4 separate regions of the Homo sapiens genome follow, and regions 1, 2 and 4 are each linked to region 3. The links come from fine-mapping of genetic effects on gene expression. A gene starts in region 3. Each other region holds a variant in brackets. All regions are shown on one strand. Distances are between the middles of the regions.

Region 1 (6,112 bases), 120 kb after region 3:
GTGCCTTGTTACCCCTGAATCTGTAACACTTTATGCATGGCCTGGCACAGCAAGTATCAGTTTATATAAAATGAGTGTGCTGAAGTAAATGACTTAATCTCTTTTAGCTTATTAAAAATTTGTAACTATTGAATCAACAATTTGTATTTTTAGTAGCTTTATTGAGGTATAATTTAGATATGATAAATGTACTCATTTTAAGTGTACAGTGTTTTTTTGTGAATTTACAGAATTTTGTAACCACCAAAAATCATTTTAGACTTTTTTTCCACACCAAAGAAATCTCTTGCTTCTATCTGCAGTCAATCGCCATTCCTGCTCTGAGTCCCAGATGATCAAAAATCTACTGTTTGCCTGTACAGATTTGTCTTTTCTGAACATTTCATATAAATGGAATCATGCAATATGTGTTCTTTTGCCCTGGCTTCTTCCACTTAGCATAATATTTTCAAGGTTAATTCATGTTGTGACATGTATCAGTAGTTTGTTCCTTTTTATTGATATTGTCGATATTTAACATTTTAAAATTTATTTTCTCACTGGTTGCTTTGGGGATTAAATATGCATCTTAATTTATTATAACTTATTGCATTTATTTCAGTCTAGTTCAGATGCAAACTAATGTAATTCAGTAAAATGTAGAAATGTTGCTCCAATATGGCAGCATTCCCATACTTCCTTACTTTGGACTCTTGTTTTTATGTAAATGGTATCTTTATATATCATAAGGCCAACAATTCAGTTTTATAGTTGTTTTATGCAATTGTCTTTTAAGCCAGTTAACACGAAAAATATTTATACCTTGTTTTATCTATCTATCTATCTATCTATCTATCTATCTATCTATCTATCTATCTACATATCAGCTTTCCTGGTGCTCTTTATTTTTGTGTGTGGACTTGAATTACTGTCTAGTATCACTTCCTTTCAGTCATAAATATTTAGTATTTCTTTAGTATTTTTTGAAAGGCAGGTTGCTAGCAATGAATTGTCTCAATTATTTATCTGGGAATGTGTTTATTTTGACTTCAGTTTCAAAGGATAGTTTTGCTGGATTTAGAATTCTTGGTTGACAGGTTTTTTGTTTGTTTTTTCAGCACATTGAATATACCAACCTCCTGTCTTCTGGCCTCCGGTCAGCTGTTAATCTTATTGTTATTCCCTTTTATCAGATAAGTTGTTTTCTCTTGCCACTTTTGAAATTTTCTCTTTGACTTTTAGAAGTTTTACTATATTGTGTCCGGTTATGGATCTTTTTGTGTTTATCCAACTTGAAGTTGATTGTATTTCTTGGATGTGTAGTTTAATATGTGTTGTTGTTGTTGTCTTAATCAAATTTGGGAAGTTTTTGGACATTATATCTTCTTTTTTTTTCAATTTGTGGTATAATTTCTTTTTCTTCCCCCTTGACTTTTATTTTAGGTTTAGGGGTAACATATGCAGATTTGTTACGTGGGTAAATTGCGTGTCACTGGGATTTGGTGTACAAATGATTTCATCACCCAGGTAGCGAGCATAGTACCTGACTTTTTTTTGACTTTCACCCTCCTTCAACCCTCCCTGCCCAAGTAAGTCCTAGTGTCTATTGTTCTCATCATTGTGTCTATGTGTACTCAATGTTTATCTCCCACTTATAAGTGAGAATCTGTGGTATTTAGTTTTGTGTTCCTGGGTTAATTTGCTTAGGATAATGACCTCCAGCTGCATCCATGTTGCTGCAGAGAACATGATTTTGTTTTTTGTTTTATTTTTTTAATGGCATAGTATTCCCATTTTTCCCACCTAATTTTCTTTCTCTCCTCTTTCTGGGACTCTCATGCTTGTATTTTGGTTTGCTTGCTAGTTTCTCACAGTTTATTTTTCTTCATTGTTTTCTTTTTGTTTTTCAGATTGTATAACTTCTATTGCTCTGTCTTCAAGTTCAGTGATTCTTTCTTCTGCCAGCTCACGTTTGCTTCTGAGCCTCTCTTGAATGATTCATTTCAGAATACGATTTCCATTTGACTCTTTCAATTTTTATATTTTTTATTGATATTCTCTATTTGATAAGTTATTATCATACTTTAATTCTTTAAGTGTGGTTTTCTTTAGTTTTTTTTTAACATTTGTAATAGCTGCTTTGAAATATTTATCTGCTGATTCCAATATCTAGACTCCTGCAAGAACAAAATTTATTGTTACCTGTTTTTCCCCCACAAATGGGACATACTTTATTGTTTCTTTGCGTGTTTCATGATTTTGTCAGTATTGCTGAAAACTACATATTTTAGATAATATATTGTAGCAATTCTTGATTCGGATTCCACCCACCCACCCCACCCCCACCCCACCATCAGGAGGTTGTTGTTGCTGGGATTTTTTGTTTAGTGACTTGCTTAGACTCTTCTGTAGAGTCTGTCTCCTTTGCAGTGTGATTTCTGATGTCTCTGGCCATATTTTTTTAATTACTATTTTAATTTTTAAACTTGGCTTCCTAAAGGTCACCCCTGGGTTGGCATAGATTAGTGGCCATCCAATGTTTGATCAGGAGTTCTGATTAAA[C/T]GCAGGCCAGGAAGGCTTCCACCCTTTACCAGTGGATCTGTATGTGGTTTGGGGAATGCATTCAAAATTCAGGCAATTTACAGTTATGCTCTAACTTTTAGTTTTGTTATGTCCAAGGCCTTAAATTCACCCAGGATCAGCAGATACAGAAGACCTTCTTTACAGACCACTAGGGATCCTATGAAAGTTTATCAAGACCCACTATGGTTGTTGTGTTCCCCAGACCTCCCTTTAAAATTTCTGGCTTATCTGCAGGTCTGTTGCCTGCACCAACTAGTATGACCTCAGAGTAGCTGCATTAGTGGCCTTCCTGGATTATTTGCTGTTGTTCCCCAAATTGCCTCACTATTGTTTTTGACAATGACTCTGGGCATTGGATTTTCTATGCTCAGTTTCAAATTAAATCAGCCCACTCTGGTTGCAGTAGTCCTTTTAGCCTGGTCTAGCCTGCCCTAGTAGCAGGCCCCCTACAGAGCTTGGGATTGGGATAAGGGCAGCCCCAGGGTAAAATGCCATGGATTTTCACTGTTCTTAATGTGGTTCAGAAGTTTTTCTTGAATAGACATTTCATACTTTGGCCCAAAATGGTTTTTTTTTTAACATTTCATCTCATTTTATTTTTGCTTTTGGGGGAAAGGGTTTGGTAAGCACTTTGTTCCAGAAGTTCCACCTCCTTCTATTACTTTTGGCATTTTAATTTTTATTTAACTTTTAAACTTTCCTAGGTAGACCATATCCTCTTTTGGGCAAACACAATCTTTTTCCTTTCCCAACAGTATCTATCCCAGAAGGCATTAAACCTTTAAGCTTTAGTTTCTTGGTCTGTCAAATGAAATTAATAATCTTTGCATTGCTTACTTCAAAGGACCAAGTGAGATAATGGTTAAAATCTCATTGTAAAGTCTAAAGCACTGTGTAAGTGGTAAAATTATTTGAAAAATTTACCATTTTTACCATTTTTCAAATGGTAAATTTTTCAAAGAATTTTACCATTTTAGTTTGCAAAGTGTAGTAGTTTGCAAACTAAAACACTAAGTTTAAACACTGCAACCTGTTGTGTAAATATTACTTTAATCTCTGGGCTTTTTTGCTTGTCATTTAATGGTCATATATTTCGTTATTTTGAAAGAAATAGTTGAGATGTTTTGAGGGTAGCAGGAAGCCATTTGTAGAACAGTGGGTAGGAATCTAGAAGTGAAAAATCAGCTTCACCAGGAGGAATCTTTAGCACCTCTCTTTTCTCTCTCACATGTCATGCAACTGCTGGGCCTTACCATTGCCTATTTTGCCCAAGATGAGCTCCTAGTAGAGGCTTCTCTGGGCATTGGAAGTAGCTGCTGGAGAGATAGGGAGCCAAGAAGTTGACTGGGATATGCCAAGAAATGCCAAACATCTTGAAGCTTTTTTCACAGTTTTATTTTGGAGAAGCATGAAAGATGGCTCATTGTTTGTTCAACTAATATGTATTTGGTGCCTGTTTTGTGCCAGGTAATATTCTGTGCACTGGGGATACAAGATAAACAGAATCTCATTCTCATGGACCTTACTCTAATGGGGGAAAGAATAAACAAGAAAATATGTCAGACAGTAATAGGTGTTACAGTGGTTTGGATGTTTGTCCTCTATAAAACTTATGTTGAAAATTAATTGCCCATGTAATAGTATTGGGAGGTGGGACCTTTAAGAGGCAATTAGGTTCTGGGGGCCCTGTCCTCAGGGGTGGGCTTAATGTCTGTTTAACAGGCTTTTGAGGAGCCAGCTTTCAGGGAGCTACTTGGGAGACTAGGGCAGGAGGATCACTTGAGCCCAGCAGTTTGAAGCTGTAGTGTGCCGTAACTGTGCCTGTGAATAGACATTGCAGTCCAGCCTGAACAACACAGTAAGACCCCATATCTTTAAAAAAAAAAAATCATTTTTTTAAAAGGCTTTCAGGAATAGATTCTCTCTCTTGCCCTTCCATGGGATGATATAGCAAGAAGGCCCTTGCCAGATGCCGTCCCCTTGATCTTGGACTTCCCATGCTCCAGAACTGTGAGAAATAAATTTCTGTTCATTATTAATTACCTAGTCTCAGCTATTCTGTTATAGCATCACAAAACAGACTAAAATAGATATCAATAAGAAGAGTAAGCCGGGCACGGTGGTCCATGTCTGTAATCTCAGCACTTTGGGAGGTCGAGGTGGGTGGATCACTTGAGGTCAGGAGTTTGAGACCAGCCTGGCCAACATGGTGAAACCCCATCTCTACTAAAAATACAAAAATTAGTTGGGTGTGGTGGTGGGTGCCAGTAATCCCAGCTACTTGGGAAGCTGAGGCAGATTGCTTGAACCTGGGAGGCAGAGGTTGCAGTGAGCCGAGATTGCGCCACTGCACTCCAGCCTGGGCAACAGAGCGAGACTCCATCTCAAAAAAAAAAAAAGTAAGAAAGGATGAGAGAACAGAGAATAACAGCATGTGGAGGACCTATTTTAGATAAGTTGGTTAAGGAAGGCATTTCTGATAAGGTGACATTTGAACAGAGACCTGAATTAAGTGAGGAGCTGTGCCATTTGGATATCTGGGGAAAAGGGCATTCTAGGTGTGGGGAAAAAGCAAGTGCAAAGACCCAGAGGCACAAGCATGCATGGTGTCTTCAGGGAACAACAAGGAAGTCATTGTGATTGAAGTGAAGAAAACAAAAAGATAGTGGTAGAAGTTGCAACCAGAGAGGTAGGCACATCAGGCCATATCATATAGTTATAACTGCCCATGGTGCCCAGCAGTGACCCAGCAGGTGCCAGGTACTGTGGTAGATATGAACTGCCTCCCTGTTGTGATCTGTTAGGGTCCAAGCAGAGCACTTAGGCTCTTGAGTTGAACAAGGGTTTGAGGCCTACTGTTCCAGAGGCGAACCTAGTACTGGGGTAGCTGACTAGAGAGCCTGGAAGCCTCATCTAGTACAGTGAAAGTAACTTGGACATTGAAATCAAACAGACCTGGCTTTGAAATTGGCTTTTCCTTACTTCTTAGTTATGAGATCTTGGGCTAGTCACTTCATTTTTTTGGACTTAAGTTTACTTATCTGTAATATAATAAAAATAATACTTAGTTTGCAAGTATTATAAGACTGACAGGGACTTAGTAAGTCCTTAGCACAGTACCTGTCACATGGTAGGTGTTCAGTAAATGGTAGCTGCTGGTAGTAGGGGTAGTATTTATTATTTTTTTTCCTTTTTTTTTAACCTCCACAGAACCACCAAAGAGGTAATGTTTGTGGTAGTCCTAATGGCTAACCTTCTATGGGGTGTTGATTGTATATCAAACATTGTTCTGAGCAAAATTCTTAGGCATCTCCAATCTAAGTCCAAATCCAGATTTCTGTTCTTCACCCAAAACCTACTCCTCTCATAGTTCTCACCAGTAAATGGCATTTTTATTATTCCAGTTTCTCAAGCCTTGGCATCATTCTTGATGTCTTTCTTCCTCTCATACCTTATATTAAATCCATTAGCAATTCCTATCAGCTTGATCTTCAAAATATATAAAAAACATGACTAGTTTCCACCACCACCATCACTGCTACTACCACCA
Region 2 (6,112 bases), 200 kb after region 3:
CTCTTGTTCTTCAGCCTCTCTCTGAGGCCGTTAGTTTAAATGTGTCCCTCTCTCCCGTCTTTAGACAACATAACAAACAATAAAACCCTAAATTAACTGAAAATTGTCTCTCCCCAGAGCCTGAGGCCCCACCCAGCTATGGCCTGCCAGGCTTCGGCAGGGAGCTGTCTCCCTCAATCCACCTGGCCCTGGCCCTGGTCTCCCCTCTCCCTTTAGGCGAATCCCACCAAGTTCCTGTGCCACTCACCAGGGCACAGAGCAGTCCTCCTCACCCCCCAGCAGCACCTGGCCTTGCAGCCCACCCTGCGCCCACCCCTCCCCTGGCTGCCAGGACACTGCCACGGACGTTGCCCTCCCTGGTTTCTTTCCTGCCTCCCTAGCAGTGCCTTCTCTGTGGTGCCCTGGAGCAGCCCAGGCATCGTCCCCAGGACATTTCCTCCCAGCCCAGTCCTGGCCTAAACACCCACCTGAGTGCCTGTAGGTCTTCTTGTCTCCAGGTCTGTCTCCTGAGAGCTCTGGGCCTTCACATCTGGATGGCATGGGACATCCTCCATGGCTGTGTCACAGGTGCCCCCAGGACTGCTCCTGTTGCCCCACCCAGCTGGCCCTAAGCCCCCGACCCATTTCCCATTACCAAACCCTAGCACAGGGGTGTCCAATCTTTTGGTTTCTCTGGGCCACATTGGAAGAATTTTCTTGGGCCGCATATTAACACTAACAATAGCTGAAGAACTAAAAAGAAAAGAAAAAAGCAAAAACATCTCAATGTTTTAAGAAAGTTTATGAATTTGTGTTAGGCCCCATTCAAAGCCATATCCTGGGCCACATGCGGCCCTTGGGCCGGGTTGGAAGCTTGCCCTAGGAATTTTAGATGGAGACGCTCTGTCTTGCCGGGTGTAGCACCCGCTCCTGTGGCTCCTTTCCTCTCCACACTGGCCAAGCAGGAGCTGAATGCTTTGGAGGCTCCCTGGGCATAAGGCCCAGGTGACCACTATGTGTTGGTGCTCAGCCTTTGCACATGCTGTCCCTCTCTGTGGAACACATTCCCTGGCCCGCACATCTTCCTCACCCCCAATTACCTCCCGGGCTCCACACAGTGCATTTCCTCAGGTGCTGCGCTGACCAGTGTGGTAGCTGCTGGCCACGTGGCTATGGAGCCCTTGAAATATTTGAGTTCCAATCAAGATGTGTAAGATACACTCCAGATTTCAAAGCAAAAGCAAAAACAGCTCATTCACACTTTTTATACTGATTTTATATTGAAATGAAAATATTTTGGATAGACTGGGTTAAAAAAAAATTAAGTTCACCTGCTTCTTTTTACTTTTTGAAATGTGACTGTCAGAAAATTTAAAGTCACATATGTGGCTCACACTATTTCTGTGGGACAGCCCTGCCTCTAGCTAGGGGCTTTGGTGAGAACCAGATGAGTTGATGGGTCTCCTCTGGGCCCTGCTTCCCTGGCTGCTGAGGTGCAGGAACTGTGAGGGGAGGGCAGCCTGTCACGGTGCCCAACACAGGGCAGGGCTGGACAGGTACAAGTGGAACAGGCGGATAAGCTGGGAAGGGCACAGAGAAAAGGAGCTCCTCGTGACAGCACTTTCCCACCTTTTATTATTCAACACATGGAAGGGGGTGGAGACACAAGGATAGGGCAATGGTGAGTTTCAATAAATAAGAGAAACAGGATGGACAGGCAGTGGGCCCATGCCTGCACGGCCCCACATAAATAACCAGGTTGCTGAGCCAGAGTGGAAGTCAGGGCTGGGCCTGGCAGCCGCCTGCACTGCCCAGAAGCACTGGCACCACAGGGACACAGAAACCACTGAGGCCCAAGGTGTGCTCCAGCCCCACCAAGTCTTCTCCCTAAAGCTCCTGAGATCTTGGGGCTGGCTGGGCAGGCTAGGGCTCTGTATCACAGTCCTGCCGGGATCAAGTCTATTTTTTCAGTTTCATTAAAAACAGCTGGGGGAGGGGCAGGCACATGCATTAAGCCCCTTCCGTAGGCAGAGCCATGGATGGACAGCCCCATGGGGGCCTTGAAGGCAGAGGCCCTGGAAGCAGCAAAAACGGGGCTGGATAAAGCTACTAATGGGAGGGATGGTAGAGCCCAGCTCCCCAGTCCCCCACAACCCAGCCCAGAACCTACAAAGAGCTGAAGAGGCCCTGGGTACTGAGACGTCTCTCCTTACTTCACAGTCAGAAAAATGGACCCAGCGATGGCCACAGATGTGCCCAAGATTAGAACCCAGGGACTCACTCTCCTAGCCCAGGACTTTCTGCTACCCCTTCCCTTTATAGACCTGCTGGAAGAGGAGGGGGACGCACATCTGCTCTAGGGCCCTGTACAGAGGCAAGGGTGTGGCTAATTACCAAGGAATGGGGCCAGGGGTGACGGGCACAGGCCCCTCCCCTCTGCCAAGCCCAGCCTCTGATGATACAGAGAATCCCGTGGGCTCCTAGGATCCAGCCAGGGCAGGCACGGGGGTCGGGGCATCCTTCAGGGGAGCAACATGGCAGCAGGGCCAGGGGCGGGGCTCAGCCTGCTCCTGTACACAGTGCCCGCCGGCCACCTGCCTCCTCACTGGGGCAGACGCTCCCACCTCCAGGCCTTGGTCTTTGCTGTCTCGTCTGCTGGGCCATTGCTTCTCGGTCCTCACAGTCCCAGCTGCAGCTCCACCTCCTCCAGGAAGCCTTCGGAACCTCCCAGGGCAGGGCCGCAGTGTCCTTAGACTAGACCGCCCCTCAGATGACCAGGTTGCTCTCACTTAGCCGGACCACATAGCGGTTCTCCTGGTGGGCAGGGGTGAGGGGTCAGAGCTGAGTCAGGGGCTGGCTTCTGGCTCCAGGAAAGTGGCCCCTGCCTAGGGCCC[G/A]CTGCACTTCCACCCCTGCCCCGTCTTCGGTCAGGGTTGGCCCAGGTGCCAACAGATGCCTTTCTCCTTGACTCTCACCTCGGCCTTGTTCTCTGCTGGGGGCTTCAGCCACTTTGTACGGCTTCCGCCACTTCCTAGCAGGGCCTGCTGCTCAGGGGGGAGGCCAGGCTGTGGGGAGTCAGGGAGATCACCCCACGAGGGCCCAGCCTCCGTGATGGTCTTCACCTCAGACACCATTGAACTTGTCCGCTGCTCAGGAATTCGAGCCACGCGGAACCTGTGAGGAGAGTGGGGCAATCATCCCCGTTAGCGGGGATCCCGGGGCACAGAGAAGGCAGCACGTGCCCGGGGTCACACAGCAAGTTCATGGACCAGAGCCTTAGCCTGAGAGGCCCGGGTGCCATGGGGGCCAAGATGCTGCCCTAGGGATGCAAGGGCTCCATGTGAGACACAACATAACCGGAAAGTCCTGATCTCTCTGGCCGCCTCCACTGCCCAGAGAGGCCCAATAAGGGCAGGGCTCCCATTGAGCAGGGTGCTCAGGGCCCAAGCTGGGGCCCTGCCTCCCCCTCCCGGCCCCCAGGCTGTCACGTCTTTACCTGCCCCTGCTGCATCTGTGCCCATCTCACCTGCCCACAGACAAGATGGTGATCTCGCCCTGACGCCCTGCCTTGGCCCCGGCCTTGGGAACCCTGGTCGGGTTAGGCAGAAGGCTGGGAACAGGAGTAGTGGCGGCTACAGCCTCAGGGGACAGCAGCACCTCGGGCCACTTCTTCTGGCTACAGCGGGAGCAGCAGGGGCCAGAGAGCGAGGCCAGGCCCTGCACGGTGTGGAGATGGTGGCGGTGCGGGCAGATGTGTGGCACGTTCGGGGGCGCTGGCGGCAGCCTGCAGGGGGCACAGGCAGAAGTGGCCATAGGCCAGGCCAGGGGCAGGAGACCCCAGCAGGGAACAGGGTGACTTGAGGGAGACCCAAGTGGGAGATCCCCAGGAGGCAGGCTGGTTAATGTAGGTTTTGGCCCCGTTATCTCCCACCAGCCCACTCACTTGGACACAGGCCTGTGGCTCGTCTGCACCAGCTGTTTGCTGTGGTACTCTTTCAGCAGCTCCTCCAGGGCCGCAGCATTCTCTGTGGGTAGCTGCAGTCAGACCCTCACTGTGGCCATATGGGACACACCTCCCACCCCCTGCCCCAGCAGAGAACCCCCCACCTACCCTCCATACCACCACTCCCAGCCTGGGCTGTGCGCCTTTTCCTCCCACTTCATCAGGCAAGAATGGGAGGCAGAGGTGTGCACTCCTGGGTCAGAGAGCACCAGGCTGCTTGAGGCACCCTGGCAGGGAAGGCAGAGCAGGGCAAGACTCTGCCCACCGCGGCTGCCTCACAGGCTCCTGGAGGAAACCCTCCTCTCCTGGGCACTGGGATGGGGTCAGACCTTCTCCTCACCTTTCTTCTCTGTGATCAAGCGCACCAGGACCCCAATGGTGTCCTCATTGGCATCCTCAGTCCGGTAGGCAGGGTTGATTCCTGGGGAAGAGAAGGGCCCTGATCCTGGGGAAGAGGGGGAAGCCGCACTCCTGAGCTAAACCATGATCTGCCAGCAGAGGGCAACCCTGGCCTTCTTAAGGGCCCTGAGCATGTGCATTTAGGTGACAAGCCTCCCAGAGCCCTGCAAATGTGGGATCCAGGCTCAGAGAAGCCCATATCACCTTCATGATTCAACACCAGTGCTTCCTGCACCCAACAGCCCGGGTGCATAGAGGCTTCAGGGCCACGTGAACTCCAGTCATTGAATTGGGCGGGCGAGGGGGCGGTGCGTCAGCGTCTTCTGGGTCTGCACTGTCTCCTCCTCAGCCTCAAGGAGCTGTGGGCTGCCACCCTACCCAGAACTCCCCAAATCTACAGCAAACTGCTATTCCATGGCCTCTCTACTGTGCCCTATGTAACAATTTAACTGAGTGCCCCTAGTCAGCTTTGGGCCCAAATCTCAAGGGTGTGAGAATGGGCCACGATGATCAGCCCTGGGCCCAGCAGCAAACAGAGCTCCCAGGACTTGCACCCAGGCAGCATCCAGCAGTTAAAGGGAAGTCTCTAGGAAAACAAGCACAGTCCCAGGCAAAATGGCCCTGAGTCACCACGTTTCCTCCTGCCGGCTTACTGCTCCTGTCCGCTTCCTGCCCCCGCCAGACTTCAGTGTCAGGACTTAGAAGGGTCTCTGGCTCCCATGCCAGCCCCAGACAGCCGAGGGTGCTAGCATGGGAGATGCCATTTCACTCTTGAGGTAGCCACAGGCTCCCATGGGCCCAGGGCAGGGTGTGTGCGAGTGGGCCCCTGCCCTGCAGGGGAGTAGTGGTGTGGGGAAGAAGGAAAGGGGCCCGGGGCCCTGGGGGTGAAGGTGGTGGCGCATGCCTGTCCCTCCGGTTCCAGGCCTTGTAACTCAAACTACAGCCTGGAACCAAAACCCGAGCCCCTTATGGTGCCTGCCCAGGACAGGACAGCTGCCCTGCCAGCCCTCCTGCCACAGGGCACTCCTGCTACTCCAGGCCAGAGGTCAGAGGTCACCTTGAGTAACTCCAAGGCCACCATCCGACCCTGGAACCATACACACAACTGTGGCCTCCAAAGAGTCCAGATCCCCACATCTGGGCAAGGCTTCACCCAGGGTAGGATCCACTGAAGCCACTTGACCAGCTGTGCCACCTCTGCTCTGCCCCCACGGCCACACCTTCGTCCCCTTACCTTTCCTCCCATGTTGTCAGTCTGCAGCTATCACCTCCCAAGCCTCTCCCTCTCAGACCCCAGAGGCCAGGCAGGATTCCGCTGGCAGCCCCCAAGTGGAGCTGGGGCTGGGCTCGTGCCCCCGTCCTTCCCACCTGGACCCCAGCTGGGCCTCACCACTGCCTCCACCTCCAGGGCCGGGCCCGACCTCCTTGTGCGCCGTGCAGTGGTAGCCCTTCCGCTTGAGGAGGTTGCACACCAGGATGCCCAACAGCCCCATGAGGCAGAAGACAGGGACGATGGCGATGACCGCGTACTGGGCGGCTGTCTCCTCTGGGCCACCTGCCCGGGTGCCGTTCCCAGGCTGCCGTGTCTCACCACCGCTGCTGGCCCCTGCTGCCACCTCCACGCCACGTCGGGCCCGCCGCCCCCACTCTGAGCATCACAGACGATGGAGGCAGGACAAAAGCAGAGTGACACAAACACAGAGAGACAGGGGCCCAGGGCCCGAGTCAGTGGGG
Region 3 (6,112 bases):
GTGATCATGCCACTGAACTCCAGCCTGGGCGACAGAGCGAGACTCTGTCTCAAAAAATGAAAAAAGAGAAGAAAATATCAAGTCAAACAGGGCTTAAATGAAAAAAATCGTGAAATCAAAAATAATCTGATACTACATTCTGTATTCTAGAAGAGCTGGACACAAGGGTCAGAAGAAGAGAAAAACTTTTTTAAAGTGCAAGACATATAGCTTTGTGTAGGCAGAGCTGCATAGGCCCTTTACAATAACTCTGTACCTCTCTCTTCACTTCCTCTCCCCACCGTGATCTCTGGCCAACAGATTAGAAACCACTGCTATAAGAATTCAGATAAGCCGGGAGCGGTGGCTCACGCCTGTAATCCCAGCACTTTGGGAGGCCGAGGCAGGCGGATTACCTGAGGTCAGGAGTTCAAGACCAGCCTGGCCAACATGGTGAAACCCCATCTCTACTAAAAATACAAAAAAAAATTAGCCAGGCATGGTGGCACATGCCTGTAATCCCAGCTACTCGGAAGGATGAGGCAGGAGAATTGCTTGAGCCCGGGAGACGGAGGTTGCAGTGAGCCGAGATTGCACCACTGTACTCCAGCCTGGCTGACAGAGCAAGACTCTGTCTCAAACAAACAAACAAACAAACAAACAAACAAAAAAGAATTCAGATATAAGGAAAACCAGTGTGTCTAAAATATGTTCTAGGGAAGGTAGGACTTTGGCTTGAGTTTGAAGAATGAGTAAGAGAAAAGGAGAAAATGGGTGTGGAAAGACCAGAAATGGAAAAATTTTGAGAAGACGCATTGAAAATTGAGAAAATTCTCCCTTCCAACTTTATGAATTGGAAGTGACTACTATTATTTGTTTTAATAGTGGAACTATTAAAACCAGGCAGGCACAGTGCTGAAGCATGAATGAGACAATGGGAAGCCATGGAAAGCATCTAGGCAGCAAAGAAAGGTTGTTAGATTTGGAAATTATGTTTTTTGGAAGTAGCACAGCTTAAAAAATTGTCCAGGTGTAGTGTGGCTCACACCTGTAATCCCAGCACTTTTGAGAGCTGAGGCAGGAGGGTCTCTTGAGGCCAGGAGTTTGAAACCAGCCTGGGCAATATAGTGAGACGACGTCTCTTACAATTAAAACAAAACAAAAAAGAAAACAAAAAACAGTCGTTATGTGCTCCTTTTAAACAATTCAAACAATATGAAAACAAAAATTACAGTCGGGCATTGTGGCTCATGCCTGTAATCCCAGCACTTTGGGAGGCTGAGGCGGGCAGGTCAGGAGGTCAAGAAATCGAGACCATCCTGGCCAATATAGTGAAACCCCATCTCTACTAAAAATACAAAAATTAGCTGGATGTGGTGGCGCGCGCCTGTAGTCCCAGCTACTCAGGAGGCTGAGGCAGGAGAATCGCTTGAACCCGGGAGGCAGAGGTTGCAGTGACCTGCGATCGCCCCCACTTTACTCCAGCCTGGCTATAGATCCAGACTCCGTCTCAAAAAACAAAAAAAACCTACGTGCAATCTGACACCCTTTCCCCCAAGATAATCATTGCTAATATTTTGGCGAACCTCTTTCCTGAAATCTCTCCATGCTTGTAGAATATTGTGTCAAACCTCACATAAATGCACTCGTGTAGACATGCTGTTGTGTAATCAACTTTTTCCCCGAAGAATAAATTGTGAATAGCTTTTCATGTCAATAGATTTATATCATTTTAAATGGCTCCTTAGTATTGCATTGTATGTATATGTCACGTCTTATTTAAGCAGCACCCTATCGATGAACATTTACTCCCTTCATAATTAACTACGTCATATAACAACTTTGTGCATTCATCTTTTCGAAATTGTTCGATCATCTTTTTAAGGTAAATTCTTAAAAGTAATGGAGCTGGGTCAAGAAGAGGATATGCCCTTTGTCGTTTGGATTCAAGTTGCCGAATCGTCCTCAAATTTGCAGGGAGACCAGCGAGGAAGCTCCGGCATTAGTTCTGGTGAGAGACAGCTGAAACGGAGATGGCGAGGGATGAACAGAATCACAGGTGATCTAGCCCATCAAGGCCCATCCTCGGTGGGCTGGCGTATTCCTTCCCTTTTGCCTCTCTTTCACTTCTTTTTCTTAACATGGAGGAAGAACCGAGAACTCCATCTCCCAGCATTTCGCAGGGACCACACTCCCTGGGAACTGTAGTACCGGGTCTGAGAAGGGTCCGGAAGGAGAATAGGAAGCTGAGGGGCATGCTGGGAGGTGTAGTCCAGAGACAGAGACGAGAGGGAGAGGGAGAGAGGGAGAGAGGGAGAGAGGGAGAGACAGAGAGTGTGTGTGTGTGTGTGGGCGGGGGGAGGGGGGTGTCTATGCAAAGAGGATGGAGACGCTGCGAGTACGGCCCCTTGGGGATGGGGCCTCGGGCGACCTGACTTTCCTCACAGGTGGTCTTTGAGTCTACAAAATTCGCCAGCGGATGGTTGGCTTTATTCCACTGTCCGTGACCGGAGAGGGCGCGGCCCCTCTGCACCGGGCTCGCGGCGGGAGGCGCAGGCCGCGCGCGGGCTAAAGCAGGGCATGCCGGGAGTTGTGGTCCCGGCGCTCTGAGGCTGTGGGACGTGTCGCGGCGCCGCGCCGGCTCCTCCTTCCCTGCCCTTCTGAGCGGTCCCCCGCCTCCTCCCTCCGCCTCCTCCTCCCTCGCCCGCAGCCGAGCGTCCCCTCCCCCCACCCGTCGGGCTCCTCGGCGGCTACTGCAGAGGATTCAGAGCCGAGTCGCTGAGGAGGAGGCTCCGGTCCCCGCGCGCCATCCGCCACCCTACTGGACACGGGCGAGAGCGTCGCCGCCGTAGCCTCCGGAGAAGACAAGGGCATCGCCGCCTCAGCCGCCGCCGCCGCCGTTTTCGCCTGCAGCTGCTCACCGGTGAGGAGACTCCCCCCGCCACAGGGTCCGCTGGTCCTGAGTCTGGGCCGGTGGCGCTGGCGAGAATGAGAGGGGAGGCTGCGGAGCCCCCGTGCAGGTTGGGGGGAGGGGGTTGAGGTCGCGATGGAACGGCGGGCTGGCGGGGGAGACTTGTCCAGGCGCTGGCCGGGGGTGGGGTGAGGGTGGGACCCAAGCAGGTTGGGGGGCGGGCGACAAGGGAGGAGGACTTTTGATGGAGAATAACCCAACCTGGGACAGGAGAGTGGGGTGGGGGCGTCGGGTTGGAATTCGGGATGGTCTTGGGGCGAGGTGGAAGATGAGACTAGGGTGGGATGGCTTTTAATGGGGGAGGGGACTGAATGAGGGTGGTGATTTGGGTTTGGCCTGGAGCAGTTGACAGCTTGGGATCTGAGCTGGGGTGAGGGGCAGGGGAATGATTTCAACGGAGAGTGAGTGGCATGTACAGGGTTGGTTAGGGCCCTGCGTAGTGTTAATTCAGAAGGGTGGAATTTGGGGTGGACCTGGGGCAGGATGATGGAGGTGGCAGGAGTTGGGGGTGAGGGGCTTGGCATGGGTTGAGACCCAAGCTTGAAGTGGGTGTTTGTCATCTGGGGCTGGTGGAATTTGTGGAGACTTATGGAATAGCATGGGTTAGGATAGAGCAGAAGAGTGCAATTTGGGGGTTTCCTGGGGTGGGCTGATGGAGGTTGGAATAGGAGTTGGTGGAGGTGGGACATTCAGTGAGGGGAGTGTGATGGTGAGCTGGCAGGAAGGGGCCACATTGGAAGTCAGGCCCGAAATGGGAGGACAGGGATGGAAATGGAGTGTGGGGCACAGTGGGTTGGATTTAGGGTGATCTTACAATCACTGGAAAGGGCATGGTGGCTCCTTGGTTGCAGAGTCAAGGCAGAGGGCACATAAAACATCACTGGGCTGCTTTCATTGAAAGGATAGCGGCAGGGGTGAGCAAAGTTGGGGGATGGTATCTTGAAGAAAATATCCCTTGGCCAAGGTGGCAGAGGGAGTTTTGGAGAAGGACTTTCGGAGATGAGCTGGTAGGCCTGGGGAGGTGGTTGCTGATGGTGAGGTGGCACAGGGGAAATTTAAGGAATGGGAGACCTGGAGCTGTTGGTATGGATGGGGCAGAGAGGATGGAGAGGGACAGTGAGCTGTGCTGGAGAGCAGGGGGGAATTGGGTTGGATTATTTTGGTGGTGAAGGATTGGGGTGGCCTCCAAGAGACACATGAGGGTTAAGGGTTGGAATACTTAAATGAACAGCCTTGGTGGCTGTGGTTGGGTGAGAGGCAGTAAGGCTGTTAGAGGGGACTTTGCAGGGGACACGGAAGAGACCTTCTCATTCTTAGGGGCCATTTTAATCTGTTCGGGTGATGTTTTTGTTTGTTTTATTTATATTAGTAAAATTTGGAAGTCAAGTCAGCCCAAAGGGTAAAGTTGAAAGGGGATTTAGTTAAGGTAGAATTAAGGAGGGGAGGGTGTCTTCTGTTATTTGTATATCATAAAAAGTAAGTTGGGGGAAAAAAGCATACTTCCAAACTAAAGGTGGGAGAAGATAAACTGGAATGTAATGGATATCTTTCTATATGATGTCTCTGCCTTTTCTTTTCCCCTCTCCTCCTGGTGTATTTAAAAACTAGCCAGGCATTTTGAAATTTAAATAGATTTGATGAGCTTGAGATTGTTAAGGGTGCATTCCTTGCTTGAGAACTAATGAGTGAGCCTGAAAAATATGAGACTGAATTTATTTTGTAGGTAGGTAACAAGCACATAGGCAAAAAGAGCTTGGGCCTTTTTTACCCCCTCTTTAAATTGATTGCTTGAAGACGCCATTTGTTAGTGTCCTGGTTTGCAAGGCAATTAGGCCCATCATTGTATTGCAGGCTAATAATCCTGAGATGAGTCTTGGCACCACCGCTTTATGTAAACAGAGAAGACAGGAAATATGGAAATGTCATAAATATTCATTGGTGAGATGGTTTGGTACTGATGGAGTTTTTCATATGATTGTCTTTTGACATTGATAAGATTTAGAATAATTGGACTGTATTTCTAAAGATTGAATTTTCTTCCAAAGGAATTCAGGTGATCAGAATTCTGTCAGATGTGAATAAATAAAGCATATTGAGTCATTTTTATTTTATTTTTTGGGGAATGATGTTGATGTAGTCGCATTGTATTAACTACAGAAACAGCATCTCCACCTATTCATCAGAAATTCGATTTAAACCTTAGCGATATGCTCATTCTTAGGGCAGAACGATGATAATGGAAGGTACACAGGAGTGCAAATGGAGGGAACATCTTTAGAGAAACAGTTCTATGGACCTAATTGCATTAACTGTGATAATATGTTAAACATAAAGTGGCTGTTGATTAGAGCTCAGACTGAAAAAAAATGAGGAGGGATGTAAAGAAGATAAAATTGGCACCATTGGGATCGAAATAATTCTTTTTATTTTTGTTCAAGCTTCAGAATTTAGCTCGCAAACAAACCATTTTCCTTGGCTTTCACGATTGAGCATATAAAAATACCATTTAGAATCTTTTTTTTTTAGCTCCAAAATGGGCAGAATGATGGAACGTTGGACTTATCCTTTGAATTGAAAGTGTTTTGTAATGAGGAAGCTTTCTGTATTATAATAAAGATCAGGTTTGAGCAGTTACCTGTAATTCAGTGAGACTGTAATCTAATGTGAGCATTTCTCTCATAACTTTACTCTGAGGTCTAGACGTTGTTTTTGCAGATCTGCAGGCTTGGTCTAGAGGTGGGATGTTTATATTAAAGCCCTAGCTTTTGAAAGCCCAAAATGAAAAGTGCCTGGGAGAAATGTGTTGGTGGATTTTTTTTTTCCACAGCCGTGGTTACCTGTGTAGTAGTAATGTGTTTTTGTATCTTTACCTCATTTGATCCTCCCGATATCTTGGTGAGAAGAGAGCAGATGGAGGTATTGATAGACAGAAGCCTTTGTGGAACGAATAGCCCATGAGTTTAGGAGTTGAGTCCCAGATTCAAATCCCAGTTCTACTACTTGAAAGCTGAGTGATTTCAGTCAAGTCATTAAAAACCTTTCAGATGGCCAGGCGTGGTGGCTCACGCCAGTAGTCCCAGCACTTTGGGAGGCCGAGGTGGGTGGATCACTTGAGGTCAGGAGTTTGAGATCAGCCTGGCCAACATGGCAAAACCCCATCTC
Region 4 (6,112 bases), 180 kb after region 3:
AGGGCACATTTTGAAGGTCTGTGGGTCTTTGGACAGAGAGGGCTCCCCCCTCTAGCACAGGGCTTCTTAATCTCAGCACTATTGACATCTAGGCCAAATAATTCTTTGTTGTGGGGGCGCTGTCCTGTGCATTATAGGATGTTTAACAGCATCCCTGGCCTCTACCCTACATGCCAGTAGGAAAGCCTCATTGTGACAACCAAAAATGTTTCTAAACATTGCTAAGTGTCCCTTATGGGGCAAAATTGCCCTCTGTATGAGAAACACTGCCCTAGTGCAAGCTGCACTGTGGGACCAAGGTGTGTATGAGGAGTCTTCAGGGAGGCCAGAAACCAGCTAGCCAGTCAGACTGGTCATATTCATCCTGAGGCTCAGTAGGGTAACTGATGTTGTCACCGTCACATCTAATTTTTAACACAAAGTGGTTCCACTGGGGAAATGAGGACCAATGTTTAGAAATTACTGAGTGGCAGCCGGGCGCGGTGGCTCATGCCTGTAATCCCAGCACTTTGGGAGGCCAAGGTGGGCGGATCACGAGGTCAGGAGATTGAGACCATCCTGGCTAACACGGTGAAACCCTGTCTCCACTAAAAATACAAAAAAAATTAGCCGGGCATGGTGGTGGGCGCCTGTAGTCCCAGCTACTCAGGAGGCTGAGGCAGGAGAATGGCATGAACCCGGGAGGCGGAGCTTGCAGTGAGCCAAGATCACGCCACTGCACTCCAGCCTGGGCGACAGAACAAGACTCCGTCTCAAAAAAAAAAAAAAAAATGAAATTACTGAGTGGCATTTTGACTCCATATAAGGAAGAACTTTGTGTCTTGTTGGAGCTGTTCAATAGAGGAATGACTGACTTTGGATGTGGTGAGAACTTCTCTCTTAAGTTGTGAGGGCTGGATAAGCCCTCAAAGGGATATTCCAGGCAAGGCCTGATAGTGTGTGGTTCCACAAATTATTAATCTACTAAGTAAGTAGACTAGAAGAATTCATTGTATTTTTTTCTTTTCTTTAAAACATCTGTGTTAGTCTGTTCTTGTGTTGTTATAAAGAAATACCTGAGGCTGGGTAATTCATAAAGAAAAGAGGTTTAATTGGCTTACGGTTCTGCAGGCTGCACAAGCATGGTACCAACCCCTGCTTAGCTTCTGGTGAGGGCCTCAGGAAGCTTACAGTCATGGCGGAAGGCAAAAGAGGAAGCCAGCATATCACATGGTGAGAGAGGGAGCAAGGGGCTGGGAAGGTGCCACACTCTAAATAATCAGAGCTCACTCATCAGCAAGGGGATGGTGCTAAGCCATCATGAGGGATCTACCTCTGTGATCCAGTACCTCCCAGCAGGCCCCATTTCCAACACTGGAGGTTACATTTCAGCATGACATTTGGAGGAAACAAACATCTAAACCATATCAACATCCAATGTCATTTTCTCAAGTTTTCATTGCCCCTAGATGTCAACATCAGTTTATGTTTATACAACGTAACTCACCTTTTGTAAAATATAGTCTCATAATCACCCTTTCATTTAATCTACATTACACTCAGTCTACTAAGTTATTTAGGTGGATTTTCATCCCAGTTTGAACGATGAGGCCTAGAAAGGTAATAGGTCCAACGCCACCCAGCTAGTAAGCAGCACAGCCGGAAAAAGGTATCACCCAGGTTAAGATTCAGTTACTGACTTTTCTCATGAGATTGATTTTACTCTTTAAGAGAGGTATGTCAGGCCAGGCGCGGTGGCTCACACCTGTAATCCCAGCACTTTGGGAGGCCGAGGTGGGCGGATCACAAGGTCAGAAGATCGAGACCATCCTGGCCAACATGGTGAAACCCCATCTCTACTAAAAATACAAAAAATTAGCCAGGCATGGTGGCGGGTGCCTGTAGTCCCAGCTACTCGGGAGGCTGAGGCAGGAGAATGGTGTGAACCCAGAAGACGGAGCTGGCAGTGAGCCGAGATTGCGCCATTGCACTACAGCCTGGGCAACAGAGTGAGACTCCGTCTCAAAAAAAAAAAAAAAAAAGAGAGAGAGGTATGTCAGCCATAAGGAGTTTCTCCAGATACCTCAGGTAGAATGAATGAACATACGTAAGATTATATATATATAAAAATAGGGATATACATGTTCTCTCTTACATCTAAACATCTGGATATAGACGCATATAGGCACACCTACTGTAGTGTAGCAGAAAGCAGCCTGGAGTGGAAGCTGCATTGAATTCTAGACTGGGTTCTGTGTAACCTTGGATAATTGATGTCCATGCATTGGACCTTGATTTTTCAAACTGCAAAATGAGGGAACTGAACTAAATCATCTCCAAGGTTCTTTCTTGCAATTAGACTCCTTATCTCTCAGCAAGATGATGTGTACTCAGCGTCTTCCACCCCAACAGGGACCACCTCTCTAGCTGCCCTTAGCTGGCCAACAAACCATCTCCAAAAATGGAGTACTCATTCCCTTCAGAGGCAACCCTTTCCACAGGAAGTCTGAGTAACAGAAGGCCTTGCCTTCTACTATGTTGAAATCTTCCTGAAATCCCATTAAGTGTCCAGCAGCCACATCCCACTGTTCCCTCCCAGACAGGCTATCACAGTCCCTGAAAAAGACCAAAATGTACCCACCCCCACCTTTTTTTTGAGACAAGGTCTTGCTCTGTCACTCAGGCTGGAGTCCAGTGGCACAATCACGTCACACTGCAGTCTCAAGCTCCTAGGCTCAAGCAATCCTCCCTCCGCAGCCTCCCATGTAGCTGGGACCACAGGCATGCAAAACCATGCCCAGCTAATTTTTTTAATTTTTTGTAGAGATGGGGTTTTCCCACATTGCCTAGGCTGGTCTCGAACTCCTGGGCTCAAGCTGTCTGCCCACCAGCTACCATGCCTGGCCTACCTCTGTTTCAAGCAAGTAATGTATAAACCTGTGCCATTTTTTAATGCAGTTGGGGTTGACTGGCCCTCCCATACTCAAAAAGATTCCTCCCAGCATTCAGATTTTGTGGCTTCTAGTACCACAGAAAATTCAGGGCACTTTGACAAATTCAGTTCAATTTCACTGATACTTGCTAAGCCTGTTTGTAATTAGGTCTCCTGCTGATTCATCACTGTCTCACTTGGCTACCAACAAGGAGTCTTAGGGGTCAAAGCAAGATTCAGACATAGAGCTTTATTTTGTCCAGACATATAAATCTGATGATCAATAAACCAATTAGTCTAAAAGGCATCCGTGATGCAAGGATCAAGCCTTTGAAGGTGGTAGGGCTTCTACAACTGAAAAAGATTTATGACAGTGAAAAAGGATTGCAGAAAGCGCTGAAAAGGTTTTATCTTGTTAATGTACATACTCTTTTTATTATCCCATTTGATTCTAAAATTATGGTTAGGAACCTAAGAGAAAGAATAGGACATCATAAACAAAGCCTCTTTTATAAGGCAGAGCTGGGACTTCGAGTGATCTAATTC[A/C]TTTTTTCTTTCATGATATTGCCTTTAGTGAAATGGGGACAACAAAGGCCAGTATATTAAATGCCCAAGATTGGACTACAGAGACTTTAACTCAGCAAGAGCTCTGCCTAGGGCAGGGTGAGCCCTGAACTTTGGGCCTAGCTGTGTACTGATGTGCTGTACAATTTGGGGAAAATCTGTCCTTCTGGGCTCCAGGTTCTTTCTCGGAAAAGGAGGAGGTTGAATATAAACCTCTAATGTCCTTCAGGCACAACATTCCAAAGTCTTAATTCTGTGACCTTCAGACTTAGAATTCCTTTCAGGATAGCCAGGCCTCCAGTGAGTGAACTGAGTCTAAGTTCATTTGGGCAAAATCTGTGAGACTTTTTTGCAACAAGCCCAACAGCTTCTTTTACTTAGATGCATAAAGTAATAAACCCTGATTTTTGTGTCACCCAAGCTCAGGCTATAGCTCCAGGGGAATTTTCAGTGTTCCTCAAGAGTATTGACAGGACCACTAGTAAATTATGGAAAGTCCTCTGAAATGATTTCCTCATGAAAGTCTTCTGAAATACTCAGAGACCTAGAATGTCAGCACTAGAGAAGTTCTCTGATACTGTCTAGTCCAAATGAGGATATTCCCTGAGAGGAATTGACCTGACTTACTGACAGAACCTAGGATGAGGGCCCCCAGGCAGTTTCTCCAGCCTCATGAAGATCCTCCTGACAAATGGTAACCTTGAGAACCACTGTGGTTAGAGGAAGTAGCACTGAGTCTTAGATCCCCACAAACAGCTCTCTCTTTCAGCAACTACTCATTATCTCATCTGTGAAATGTTTACGTTGGTCTTAATGATCTCTGAGTCTTCTAGCTCTGCAGTTCTGCTTCTATCTCAGACTGTCTGGACAAACAAGCAAGGCCTTCTTCTGCAGCATCATCTCTTTGGCTGCCAAGGGTGTTTTGGCTACTGATTTGTATTCTGAGTATGTGTGTGTCTCATTTCATAACATGAAGAAAGGGAAACATTCTCAGACAAGGTTATTCTTAGATGTGGGAACCAAATTCTACTGCAGTCTCTTGGAGCTTTTTGATTTTCCTCAGAGGGATAGTCTCACCACTTTGTAATATGGCTGTCCTTGTGGCATACAGTGGGTAATCCAGCTTCCCCAGGGAAGAGAAAAATTCCAGAGCACATTCTCCAGGAGCATAAAGGAAAGTCATCAGCATCTTTGGCCTGTTAACTTTAAAGAATCATAAAATCATGGCATTTTAAGCCATAACATTTTAGAATCTTAGAATCCTGGAGTCTGTGTTCCAAGCTGGGACAGACCATAGTAGTCATAGATTAGCTTTAGTCTCTCAGACCAGGCTCTGCCTGCATACCCTTAGGACAGAAGCTTACTGTCCCTATAAAGTGAGAGAGAAAATAATAATAGCTGATCTTTATAAAGTGCTTCTAATATGTCAGGTACTGTTCTAAGTGCTTTTTACTTAACAGTTAATGTATTTATCACAATGAAGTAGGTACCATTACTGTTCCCATATCACACGCGAGACTGATGTATCCTATAGCTATTAAGTCTCAGAGCTGGGGGTTTGGACCCAGGCAGTCAGTCTGTCTCCAGACTGCTCATAACCATGGCTCTGTGCTACAGAGCTTTCAGAAACAGGCACCTTCTGATTCAGGGGTGTCCTACTCTCCTGCATAGAAAAGGGATGCTTTCAGCTCTGCTAGGTTTCTCTACACCTTGATATATTCCTTTAAATTAGGGGTCAGCAAACATTCCTGTAAAGGGCCAAATATTTAGGCTTTTAAAAAGGCCATATGCTCTCTGTCAGTGACTACCATTGTAGCAGGAAAGTAGCCTTAGTCAATATGTAAATGAATGGATGTGGATGTGTTACAATATAACTTTGTTTACCAAAACTAGCTTCAATTACAAAAAACATGGCTGAAATTTAATTGTTTTAAATGTTTATAGTATGAATAAAAGATTCTGTGGTAAAATTAATTTGGAAAATACAGTCTTGTACATACTCCCATCTTAGAGATTCACAGTTCACCTCCCCACCTTCTTTAAGAGACAGGGTCCTGCTCTGTCACCCAGGCTGAAGTACAGTGTTGTGATCATGGCTCACAACAGCCTTAGACTCCTGGGCTCAAGCCATCCTCATGCCTCAGCCTCCCAAGTAGCTGGGGACTACACCAGCCACCATGCCTGGCTAAGTTTTTTTCTTTTTTTAGAGATGTAGTCTGTCTGTGTTACCCAGGCTGGTGTTAAACTCCTGGTCTCAAGTGCTTCTCCTGCCTTGGCCTCCCAAAGTGCTGGGATTATAGGTGAGAGCCATCACATCCAGCCCATCCTATTGTTTTAAAAACTTCTCAGGGTCATGGAATAAAAACAAAATCTTAACTGTTTATCTCTATTTTACATATGGGACTATAGAACTCTTTTGTTTCCTTTTCTTTGGCAAAAACAACTATTAAGATCCCTTGGGATCTATAGTACGTTGTCCACATTTGGGAAATGTCTATCTCTGGTTTATCTATAAAACCCCTTTATTTTATAGATAAGTAAATTGTGTCTCCGTACACATCAGATGGTTCCTTCTAGACATCTGCAAAGCTAGTCTCCCTGTCTTCCCCCACAGTATCTGCTTCTCCTCCTATGACC

Alleles and levels. Positions count from the first base shown, and alleles are read on the strand shown. Sizes are in standard deviations (SD) of each study's normalised expression. Not every link is listed here.
In carriers of allele A in region 2, the expression in whole blood of the gene that starts at base 2,713 in region 3 tends to be higher than with G alone (small effect, 0.26 SD a copy in GTEx).

The links. PIP is the estimated chance that this variant, and not a neighbour inherited with it, causes the effect. A credible set is the group of variants that fine-mapping cannot tell apart.
Region 1: its variant is the best candidate, but not a certain one, in a credible set for the expression of FAM168A in whole blood (TOPMed, PIP 0.82).
Region 2: its variant is the best candidate, but not a certain one, in a credible set for the expression of FAM168A in whole blood (GTEx, PIP 0.64).
Region 4: its variant is the best candidate, but not a certain one, in a credible set for the expression of FAM168A in whole blood (INTERVAL, PIP 0.87).

What each region holds. Positions count from the first base shown.
Region 1 is chr11:73,472,668-73,478,779 of GRCh38, reverse strand. All of the region lies in intron 1 of FAM168A (family with sequence similarity 168 member A), which reads left to right. Among named protein-coding and RNA genes, the nearest start is that of RELT, 99 kb to the right of the region's middle. The variant C/T (reference allele first, on the strand shown) is at 2,542.
Region 2 is chr11:73,392,125-73,398,236 of GRCh38, reverse strand. It overlaps RELT (RELT TNF receptor), which reads right to left. Exons shown (of 11, transcript NM_152222.2): 6 at 5,769-6,026; 7 at 4,320-4,400; 8 at 3,920-4,001; 9 at 3,503-3,760; 10 at 2,952-3,150; 11 at 763-2,793. The coding sequence ends at 2,746. Among named protein-coding and RNA genes, the nearest start is that of RELT, 19 kb to the right of the region's middle. The variant G/A (reference allele first, on the strand shown) is at 2,874.
Region 3 is chr11:73,594,713-73,600,824 of GRCh38, reverse strand. FAM168A (family with sequence similarity 168 member A) reads left to right here and starts at 2,713. Exons shown (of 8, transcript NM_015159.3): 1 at 2,713-2,902. RefSeq lists silencers at 2,270-2,499, 2,630-2,759 and an enhancer at 2,651-3,379.
Region 4 is chr11:73,413,469-73,419,580 of GRCh38, reverse strand. All of the region lies in intron 4 of FAM168A (family with sequence similarity 168 member A), which reads left to right. Among named protein-coding and RNA genes, the nearest start is that of RELT, 40 kb to the right of the region's middle. The variant A/C (reference allele first, on the strand shown) is at 3,458.